Linked DNA regions of Homo sapiens: region 1 is linked to region 2. The links come from fine-mapping of genetic effects on gene expression. A gene starts in region 2. The other region holds a variant in brackets. All regions are shown on one strand. Distances are from middle to middle. Region 1 has its middle 29 kb from the start of CRNN. Region 2 holds the start of CRNN (cornulin).

Evidence for each region. PIP is the estimated chance that this variant, and not a neighbour inherited with it, causes the effect.
Region 1: its variant is the best candidate, but not a certain one, in a credible set for the expression of CRNN in unexposed skin (GTEx, PIP 0.90).

Annotation. Positions count from the first base shown.
Region 1 is chr1:152,440,302-152,445,676 of GRCh38, reverse strand. No RefSeq gene overlaps it. Among named protein-coding and RNA genes, the nearest start is that of CRNN, 29 kb to the right of the region's middle. The variant T/A (reference allele first, on the strand shown) is at 3,320.
Region 2 is chr1:152,411,830-152,417,204 of GRCh38, reverse strand. It overlaps CRNN (cornulin), which reads left to right and starts at 2,942. Exons shown (of 3, transcript NM_016190.3): 1 at 2,942-2,991; 2 at 4,959-5,109. The coding sequence starts at 4,972.

The sequences.
Region 1 (5,375 bases), 28 kb before region 2:
TTTGTGAGCCCCTGGTTTCTCATCTAAAATAAGGTACTAGCTACTTCTTAGAGATGCTGAAAGAATTTTATGAGATAATATGTGTAACTGTAGGCTACTTATTATCATTGTTATTAATAGAAGTAACATGACATCAGTATGTGTGAAAAGCCATACAATTATTTAAATCTTGAACTCAATATTTATCTTAATACATTTACCCTAAAGAAAAGCTCATATATGAATCTTTCATACTTTTCTTTATTTATATAAAGGGGCAGAACGGGAAGGAAATAAAGTGCCGACCAAGTATATATAATTTGAAGGTAGTGGGTGAAATACTTTACATTTGTTAATTCATAAAAATGAGCAAAGGAAAAACTACAAGCAACCTAAATATTCAGCAGTGATATAATGAATGGAATATTATACAGTCATTTAAAGTAATTATAAAGACTATGTAGCAATATAGAAAAATGCTCATTATATCATATTAGGTAGAGAAAGCAGGTTACTGGGTGTAGGTATGCAGATGCTGATTGCAGTTGTGTAAGGTCCATATGCATGAGCACAGCCACACACTAAAGTCACCACTTGCTCTAGAATCACGGGCGTGTGGTGATCCTTTGCTCTCTTATCTGTCAAACTGTTTGTGTGTTGTTTCATTGTTTGTCACATTATTTTTATAGGCATGCTTTTCTTGAGGTGCCCTCTTTGTCAGTATTTCCCTCTCTCCCATATGGCCTACCCATCAATTTTAAAAGGGAAAAATAAAGATATTTTCATGCTTGAAAGTCTTGGCAGGTAGCAAACTTTTGAGGAGGCATCAGTTGCATTCACTTCATTGCTGTTTTCTGAAAAATATATGGAAGAGTTATGCTTTGCACATAGCTTTTCAACTACACATAGCAACCCTTCAAAAATTGCTCTCAGAAATTAAAAACAAACGCACTACTGCAGTAGAATCCCCCAGCAGCACCCACCCGCACTGTCCTCGGAGGGCACACTTTATGTCTCTAGGACACAAGCCAGCACAGGTTGGCTTTCTATCCATTCATCCATTTATTCTACCATCCATATGTCCATCATTTGATGCTTCACTGCCTGTCCATCCACCAAATCCATCCCTCTGTTTATCCATTCATTCAGCCATCCTTCCTTGAAAGGTCATCACCACAAAACTCCCTTATAAGAATTAGAGATTTTTTAAAATGTTTCTCATCTTCATTTGGCTACTCATCTGAAAAGCCAAGGTCAAGGTTACTAAATGGGGTCAGTGAAGCAACAGGACGTGAACCCAGGAGACGTGCTTCTCATCTTCTCCCAGTCCATGGTGGGCAGTTCAGCAGCTGTTTCAGCCACTGGGCAGCCTCCCAAGGCCCATTTTGGGAACAATGAGTCCAGTAATCAGGCCACTATTTGTCATCAGGGCCCGCCCTTGTCACAGCAAGGTTGCTGGCTGGAGCAGAATCTTCAAGGCATTTCAAGCATTTACCACCTAAATCTGTCACATATTAGCCCTGTAGGTGGAGTGGGAGAGGCCGTGCAGTATGACTTGTCAAGCTGCCAGACAAAACCTGCTTCAGTCAATTAAATAATGGGCTGTCATTACAGAAGACTGGATTGTGACCTTCTCAATCAAGTTCTAATTGGGGTTGATGAGGACAATCTACCCTGGATGTTCTTATCTTCCATCAGACCATCACTGTTTAGAGTCCTCCTTTCATCCCTAAAATGGGTGTAGATGGGAAAACTGAGCCTGCATCTGCAGAGAGATGGGGATGTGTCCCTAGAGCAAATTTAAGAATTAACAAACACTTAATTGTATGCTCTACGTGAGATCCAGTACCAGATGCTGAGAATCTAGATGCTGGGACAGACCAAGCACATTTCCTGCCTGTGAGGAACACGCAGACCTAGTGAAGAAAACAGTTACCATCAGTGTGGACAGGGCCATAACAGCAACAAGGACAGGGTGTGATGAAAGCACCCACATGTGTCTAGAGAGAATCCCAAAGGCTTCAAGGAAGGGGCATTGGAACTGGGCCTGGACAGCACACACAGACATGCCTGTTCCCTGCTAGATAAACTCAAGAGACACATGGAGGAGCAAGGAGAGGGCCCACCGCAGCTCAGGGGCAGCTGGCAGCTTACATGGGGTCTCTGGGACAGCAGCCACTCTCTTGCACAGTGTGGCACAGATTTGAAAATGTGAGCCACAGAAGGTCCTGCTGATTGTTTCCAGGATACACTTTAAACCATCATAACTCCAGATCGCTGTTTTTATTCATTTTTCCTAGAATAGATTCTTCTCACCTCACCTACCCCTGAGGCCCCACAACCTACTACTATACCCTACTCACTTTTCAAGGCCCACCTCTCAGGTCACCTCTTCTATGAAGCCTTCCTGGAGACTGATCCACTCACAGACGCCTCCCTTTTTGCCCTCCCAGTGTTTTGTATCTAAGTCCAGATTAAATTCCAGTTAGTTTGTGGAGCCTGTCTCCAGGGACCTCCATCTTTGCATCCCCAGTGCCTGGTACACAGTAGGTACCCAACATCTGACTGCTGACAGACCAACCCCTCCCAGGATTGACTCACGCTGAGGTGATCCAGAAGCACCATCCAAACCCACTTCCCACAGGGCTGAGCTTGTTGTCATGGCAGGAAGCCACCAGTTAACTTGAGAAAAACCAGCCTGTGGAATTCTGCCAGTTCCCCAGCCAGTATGCCCCAGAGTAGCTGCCACCCAAAACCCATGCTGTATTTTCTAATGTTTACAGGAAACTTGGAGCTCACAGAGCACCAGTCAACAATCGGCCACCCAGCGAGCATGGGCTGAGCCCCCACTGTATGGGAGGCACCCTAGCACCAGTGACCCTTTAGTGGCTGGGAAAGGAAGTGGGAGGAACCTACTAGTCATCAAAGATGAGATTAGGTTGTTTATTTTTAATTAATTCAAAAGTAATGTGATTGATGTTATCTTCATTATATTCTTTCCTGACTTTCCCATGCTGGGCCTCTCTTACTAGTATAGCAAGATTTTTTTTTTAAGAAAAATTTTAAGGTAGTCTGAGTGGAAAAGCAAGGAGATCCTGAGTATGCAGGGAAAAGAAAGGGGTCGCCAGTGCACTGAGCGGGAAGAGGGTGTGGGACTGCAGAGGTCTCTGAGGGCCAAGGGAGTGACGTTGCCAGCAGCCCAGGCCGCACGTGGCCAGCCTTCTTTAGTTGCTTTCTCTCCCTGCCCCAGCTCACCTCTCATCCAACTCAAACTCTAAGCCTGGGCCCTTCGGGATTTTCTGTATGGTTCGTTATCTTGCACTGCGTGGGAACAAATGAT[T/A]CTGCCTTTGTGTTCAGAAAAAAAAACAGGAGTGGGGGTGATTTTTTTCAAAGGAAACTTTATTTGGAAAACCAAAAGAAAAGCAAAACAAAAGAGAGCCACCAGGAAGGGGCTGAGGTAGAAAACTGTACCAAGCACAGAGTCCTTATCCTAAACCATCTGAAGACCAACTGTCTTGGCTGACATGTGGACCCAGGACCCAGCACCCATCTCTGCAGAGATCCTTTGCCTGGCCCCCAGGTGCTGCCCCCACACATTTACTGGCACAGTCTGGGGAGGTGAAAAGAAAACACATTTGCTGTTTCTCACCTGGGGGCTCTGAACAGAAGTCAGTTCTACCTACCCATTCCCCACTGGCAGCATCCCCAGTCAGTCCTTGGTCTCCCTTCCAAGCCAGTGTCTGCCAGCAGGAGAGCTGACTGGATTTTTCTCTCCTCCTGCCTCCCTGTACTCCTACCAGGAGGTGCCAGGGCTGGATTCCCCTGGTCTTAACCTGCTCTCAGGAGCCCTCACTGGTGCATTTCTCTGGTTTCCGTTCCCCGTTTTAGCCTCTGGTCAGCAGGCCACTGGGCCTGTCACTGGCCATCTTGGCAGTCATCCTTGTGGACTTTCCTCCCCAGACCCCCTAAGATCTGGTGCCAGTGCCTGTCCTGGCTCTTGTGCAGGACTTTCTAGAGCTTGTCTCACTGGCAAACTCTGCTCAAGGCCCAGCAGGCACTGCACACATCTGGGCAGTGGTGGTTGTTTCTCAGCTCCCAGCCTAACCCTGTAACTTAAGGTCCGCTGGGCACAGGTCCCTATCGTTTAGCTCTGCCCAGAGCCCCACTCGTCATGGCTACTCTGCCTTCAGCTGTTCCCCTTCCTCCTGATGTGAAACTCAGTGCTCCCACCCCACCCCCACCTCCCAAAGTATGAAGATCCCTTTTCAAATCCCAGCTCTGCCATCTAACAGGCTACTGACTTGAACAAGTCTTTTGAACTTTCCAGGGAGAAGACACGTCTGTAAAATCGGGAAAACCATAATAATTAACCCAAAGGATGGCATGAGAGAAAATACAGGTAAAAATGCCTTGTAACTGTAGCCCTGTGTGCAGGTTGTTTTGTTGGCCTCTGCCACCGGCTGATCAGTAGCTTCGCTGTCTGTCTTCACCACCTGAAACACATTCTCTCTCTGGTTCAGGACGGTGCGCTCCTCTCTGAATTCTGGCTTCTTTGCAGGCTTTCGGTTATCCCTCTGTCACCTATTTGCTGCTCAGTTAGTGGCATGCTAGGCCTTCCTGCTACACGTTGACTTGAACACTAGGTGGCAGCCTGACCCATATCTTGCTGGGGTAACTCGGCCCTCTGCCGGGATGGGAACCGAGACTCGAGGCTTCCACCCCAGCTACCCTTACAGCTGCCACACTGCCTTTTCTTTCATGGCTGTTGGCAGCAGAGAGCCAAGAAAGGCTCCCCGTTGCTAAACACAGGCCGAAGCCTTGGAGATGAAGGGAGATTTGAGCTGATCTGAAGTCAGCTCTTCTACCAGCTGGGGCTTCCTTTGTAGAACAAAGACTTGAGACAGCCTTTGGTGGAGGGTGAAAGAAGCTGAGGCCTGGGCGGTGGCGGAGGACTTAGCATGGTGGTGACCTTTTAGCCCAGAAGGCTGCTTTGCCGACTGGGCCTGGAGTTTCCTGTGGACCCTGTGGCCCAGAGGACCTGCTGGGATCCCATTGCATTGGAGGATACAGGCTGATGTTTACCTTTCTCTACTGACTCCTTTCCCTCAACATGCAAGCATGATCAAGCCTTTCCCATTTTAAAGTAATCTTCCAACTTACCTCTCCTTTCATCATCCTCTCTCTTTGGCCTTACCATCTTAGCGAAATTTATTGAAAAGTTATCTTTGCTCTCTCTTTCTTCATCACCTCCCACTCACTTGTTAGCCTACGGCATTCTGACTCTCTTTCTCCTGCACTTCCAGGTCTGTTACTGAAACAAATTTGGGGTCCACCCGCCCAACACAGCAAAGCCAAACACTGACATCAAGATTGCAGAGAGGGGGAAAGTGAGGCAT
Region 2 (5,375 bases):
ATACCCGTAAAATGTAACTGCTAAGTAGACTCACTAATGTCAACTTAAATAATAACCACAGTGAATCTCTCTTAAAAAAAAAGTTACCTATTTGAGAATAGGGCATTGCAATGGGAATACATGTGCCATAGTAAACTACGTGCATATTCAGGAGGTAAAGGAAAACAAAAGTTCTTACAGGAAAAACAATGAAAATTACATAATTTTATTGAAATGTGTATTCTTGGCTACAAAGATCAATAACAATGGTGATGCTAATATGAAGTTGGACAGGCAGCTGCTGGACTGATGTCCTCACAGAAGTGTTTGTTGTGTAAGGCTATTATGGCCTTTGTGTAAGGTTGTGGTTTTTGCAGTCTTTTGTGATAGTTGTGTTATCAGGTGTACAAGCATGAGAACTCTCTCTTCGCAGCCTTCCTTAGCTCTATATTTGTCAAGGATTTTTTTGAAGACAAGTGACTCCATTTTGATTCTGACAACTTGCACACTAACTTATAACATCTCCTCACCAACTTTATAAACTAACAAACTTACACAGTCAATTACAGGCTCAGTCCCAATCTCTGCCAACTCATCTCCCCCAGCCCCACCTGCACACTTCAACCCACCTCCACTGGCCCAGCACACACATACAGTTCTTTAACCTCTACTTCTATGGTGCCCCAGCTCCTCACAGCTCAGTCCTGCCCCAGGCACACATAAAGACCTATTAGGCTTTGGAGGCAGGCAGACCTAAGTTCAAATTCAGGTCTAACTTCCTAGCTATGTGACCTTAGGTAGTTTACTTAAGTTTACTTACTTACTCTCTGTGCCTTGGTTTCTTCATCTATAAATTGGGTTAATAATACCTACCAAATATTCATCTTCTAGATACAGCCTCTGGCTTGTTACTTCCCTAACTTACCCTCAGTTCCCAAACCTTTCTGGAAGTTCTAAGCCCCATCAGAAAAAGCTTCAAACACCACCACAGAAGAAGGTCTAATCGGCTCTCCCTCTTGTTCTCCAACTTCACCCTCTCATACTGGCCTTCTTCTAACTCTGATCAGGCAGAAGCAACCTCAGCCCCCTCTTGCTCCCAAAGGTTGAAGCCCCTACTCTGCTTTTCCCTGGCTGGTATGCCTACCCCACCTTCACCCCAGGACTGGAGCCAACCTGTCCCCATGTAGACAGATCTCTCCAAACACAAAGCCTGCATCCTGCCCTCCTGCAGTCTGGAACTCCCCAGTGCTCTGTGCCCTGAGGGGAAGTGCTGGAGGCTGTGCTGTTGCTACAGGGCTGCCCTCAATACACCAGTCTCTTCAACCAAGGCCCTTACCATGCCTTCCTATCCTGTTGTTCCCTTTCCTGTCTGTTGCATGCTGATCTATAAGTGAGGATGGTAAAGATGGCTTTCCCTTCCAGAGTCACTCAGGAAGCTACACAGTATATATTATCTGCAAAGTGCCACTCAAGAGCACTCTTTGGGACTTGGCTTCTGAGCTCAGAAAACTTCCTCCTCAGGAATGGTTCTTCATGCATTGAGGATAAGTGTGATGTTCATAAGGTGCCAAAACTCAATGAGAGAAGAATAAATGGCAGCATGGTGCAACAGAGAGAACACAGGCCTGGAGTCTGAGGGGCTCTAGTCCAGCACCGTCTCCGCTTCACAGAGTGGCTACTTCTCTGAGGATTTCTCAGTGTTCTCATTTATGAATTGGGCTTAGCCATACCACCTCAGAGGATTGCTAGGGAGATCAAATAAGATGAGATGGTAATGAAAATGGAATAAAATCAAATGAAATGAAATGGCAATACCATTATCATTAACCTCTTGGGGACTTACCCCTGGGATGGCCAGGCTATAGACTTCATGAGAGTTGAAACTGCTGCCATCGTATTCAACACTGTATTCCTAGGGCCTTAGCCCTCTGCCTGAAATGGAGCAAGCTTTCCATAAATATTTGCTGATTAGCCACCAGTTGAGTTTCCTGTCCTTGCAATGAGGAGTTACCACATGATCATGGTAAGCCTTTTTTCTCATCAGCTACAAAATGCTACCTACCCATAGCATGGGGTGGGGAAGGTATTAACTTTTTTTGTTTTAATTAAAAATGAGACCAACTTTAAAGAGATGAAACTGGCTTTCTTGTGTCTCATACACTAGGTGTGAAAGGCACTTACAAAACAAGAATTCAAAAAATGTTCTAAGTAATAACAGTTCTAAGTAACATCACCACAAAAACATGTGTGCCCTCTCAGAGTGGCTACTTTGTAAAAGTTAACCTCAATAGATATATTCTTGAACATTTATATTAAAAAAGGAAACAGTGGCCAGGCACGGTGGCTCACACCTATAATCCCAGCACTTTGGGAGGCAGAGGCAGGTGAATCATGAGGTCAGGAGTTCAAGATCAGCCTGTTCAACATGGTGAAACCCTGTCTCTACTAAAAATACAAAAATTAACTGGGCATGGTGGCAGGCACCTGTAATCCCAGCTACTCAGGAGTCTGAGGCAGGGAATTGCTTGAACCCAGGAGGCGGAGGTTGCAGTGAGCCAAGATCGCACCACTGCACTCCAGCCTGGGCGACAGAGCAGGACTCCATCTCAAAAAAAAAAAAAAAAAAAAAAGGAAAGAGTCCCATAACTTTGTAGGCTCATAGAGACAAAGAATGTTCACCAGGACCCCAGCCTGTACCAAGCACTGCTGAGCCCATCACAATGGAAAGAAGCTTCCCTGTCAAGAGGACTCAGCTACAGAAGGTACCAAATGTGGTAGGAGGGGCCTGTTAATTAGACCAAGGCAGTCACACATCAGCAGGTAAAACAGAGACAAGAGGAGGTGTGGCTGGGCTGGGCTGGATCTTGGATGAATCAAGCCTTCCCATAGGGCAGGATATCCTGTCTAAAACAAGAGCCTTGGTTAAAACCCCTATAAAAGGTTCTCATCACACTGACCTGGTACTCCTCACACCACTTAACAGCCACTTGTTTCATCCCACCTGGGCATTAGGTAAGTCCCCTCATAAGAAACCTCTTTCTCATTCTCAGTGTCTTGGTGATCTGAGCTCATAAAACTGGGGCAGTCAGGTATGGACTATGCATCCTTCAGAGCTAGCTGTGAGCACTGGGCAAACCAACGCTACCGTTGGGAAACATGCTCTCCTGAAGCAATCAGGCTTTCTCCTCCTCCCTGAGGCTGGCCTGGGAGCAGCTCCTCTCACTGGGAAACTGTGTGGGCAGCGGCTATGGGGCCACCCATGTGCCTTCCTGGATCAGCAAAGGTTTCTTTTTTCTAAGGCTCTGGAAGCTTCTTTGCAGTGCTGAGAGTCTATGGGATCAGAATCAGTTTACTTATGCCAACCTAGACAATAAGATCAAACTGTGTCATGGATGAAGGGGTTTACATGATTCCCCTCTCCTACACCAGGGTGATATTTAGGCAAAATATGTGTAGATTTTTCTAAGGAATCTAAAATGTAACTAAAAGGTCATCTTATTATTTTATTATCTAAAGGTCAGTGGTTAAAGTCTGCTACATGGTTTTAAAAAAAAAGAAAGATATTTTTCATCTATGTTGAGGAAAACATCCCCAGTTTTTTACCTTGATGAAAAGTTTGCCTGAAATTGTTGGTTACCAGGTCCTAGAAAGGGTTTCTCCTGAACAGCCCACCTTTTGCTATGACTTACTGAGTCCTCATGGCCACACTAATCTGCTTTTTCTAGAACTCAAGTCTCCTTCCTTCCTTTTTTCTCTTTCTTCTCCTACCTATATCTGCCTCGTCCCATCCTCTCTCTGGCTTTCCAGCTGCTACAGGCTCCATCTCCCCTTGCATTTGAGACTTGTCATCTTTGATACCATCTCCTCCTTTGGGTCTCTCCAAGGCTTCTGCTTAATGAATCTTCAAGTCTCTTTTCCTTTTGCTCATGCAACCAAACCCAGGCCTCACCTCAACCTACCTCTAGATTTCTGGCTAATGAAAAAGAAAAGCTTTCCCTTTGATTAGGAACCAACTCATAGGTCACCAGAAATCTGGGCCTGATGGAGCCACGTGCCTGTTGGGCAAGCTGACTTCTCTGATAAGTCTCAGGGCTGTGGACAGAGGCGACATGCAGAGAAACTTGGACCCTCAGAACTGGAAGGCCTCCCACCCAAAGAAGGTTCCCCCCTCCTGAGCATTCCCAGCAGGTGGTAGCCCAGTTTCTTCCCACTTTCCCAAAAAAAACAAGAAGGGAGGGCTGTGTCCCTGGAATTTCTGCTTGGCTCCCATCCAAGACAGGGGTTGACTCACAGATGTATTTACTTCCTTTTGGTGTTCCCGATGGGACCCTAACACCCTTGTGATAAATAAATAAATCCTGTCCACAGGGTACATTCTAGAAAGCCCATTGCATTTGGGTTAAGGAAAAATGGATCCTAGGATTTCTTGGCTCCTTAAAAATTGTGTGGCCTAACTTCTCTGAGCCTGTTTCCTCACCTATAAAAAAAAGTGGAAATAATAAGGATTAGAAGAGATGATGTACAGGAAAGTGATTATATAGGTGTACAAAAATTATATGTGTGTATATGTATATAATAGCATAATAATTATATTTAATAAGGAGCACTTAATATAAGCCAGGCATCTGCCAAGTGCTTTTTATGAATTATGTCTTTAAATCTTCACAATAATCCCACAGAGTACTAATATCACCTTCAATTACAATGAGTAGTAAACTGAGGCATGGAGAGGCAAAGCAACTTGTCCCAGCTCACACCATACTTAAGTGGTGGGGCCAGCATTTAATCCTGACTCAGGAACCTGCCTCCATCCTGTGTGCTCCTCCTTCCCATACATAAGATGCATTATGTAGGAAAGGACAAAGGAAAACTAAAAACAGAGCTGAACGTGCAAGGAAAGACCTAGCAGCAGACGTGCTATAAAGGAAATAGCTGAGGTTGATTATGGAGCCTCCAAGGGAACTTTTCATCTTTTCCAGGTTGACTTCAAAGATGCCTCAGTTACTGCAAAACATTAATGGGATCATCGAGGCCTTCAGGCGCTATGCAAGGACGGAGGGCAACTGCACAGCGCTCACCCGAGGGGAGCTGAAAAGACTCTTGGAGCAAGAGTTTGCCGATGTGATTGTGGTACGGTGTGCTGAGCCGGGTGGAGAGGGGACATAGCAGGAGAGTGAAACCTGGTTTGCCTGCAGAGGCCTTGCCTGGGGAATTTGAGGAGGCAGCAGCTAAACCCAGGCCTGCCGGGACAGATGGCAGCTGTGCAGGCAGAAAAAAAGGTGAAAGAACCAGAGATGGTCATGGGAGTTGGCAAGTCCTGGCTCTTTAGATTAAAACCTTGGTTTTAATTAATTCTAACTTAAAGACAAGGTAAAAGGGCTCTAAAAGGACAACTC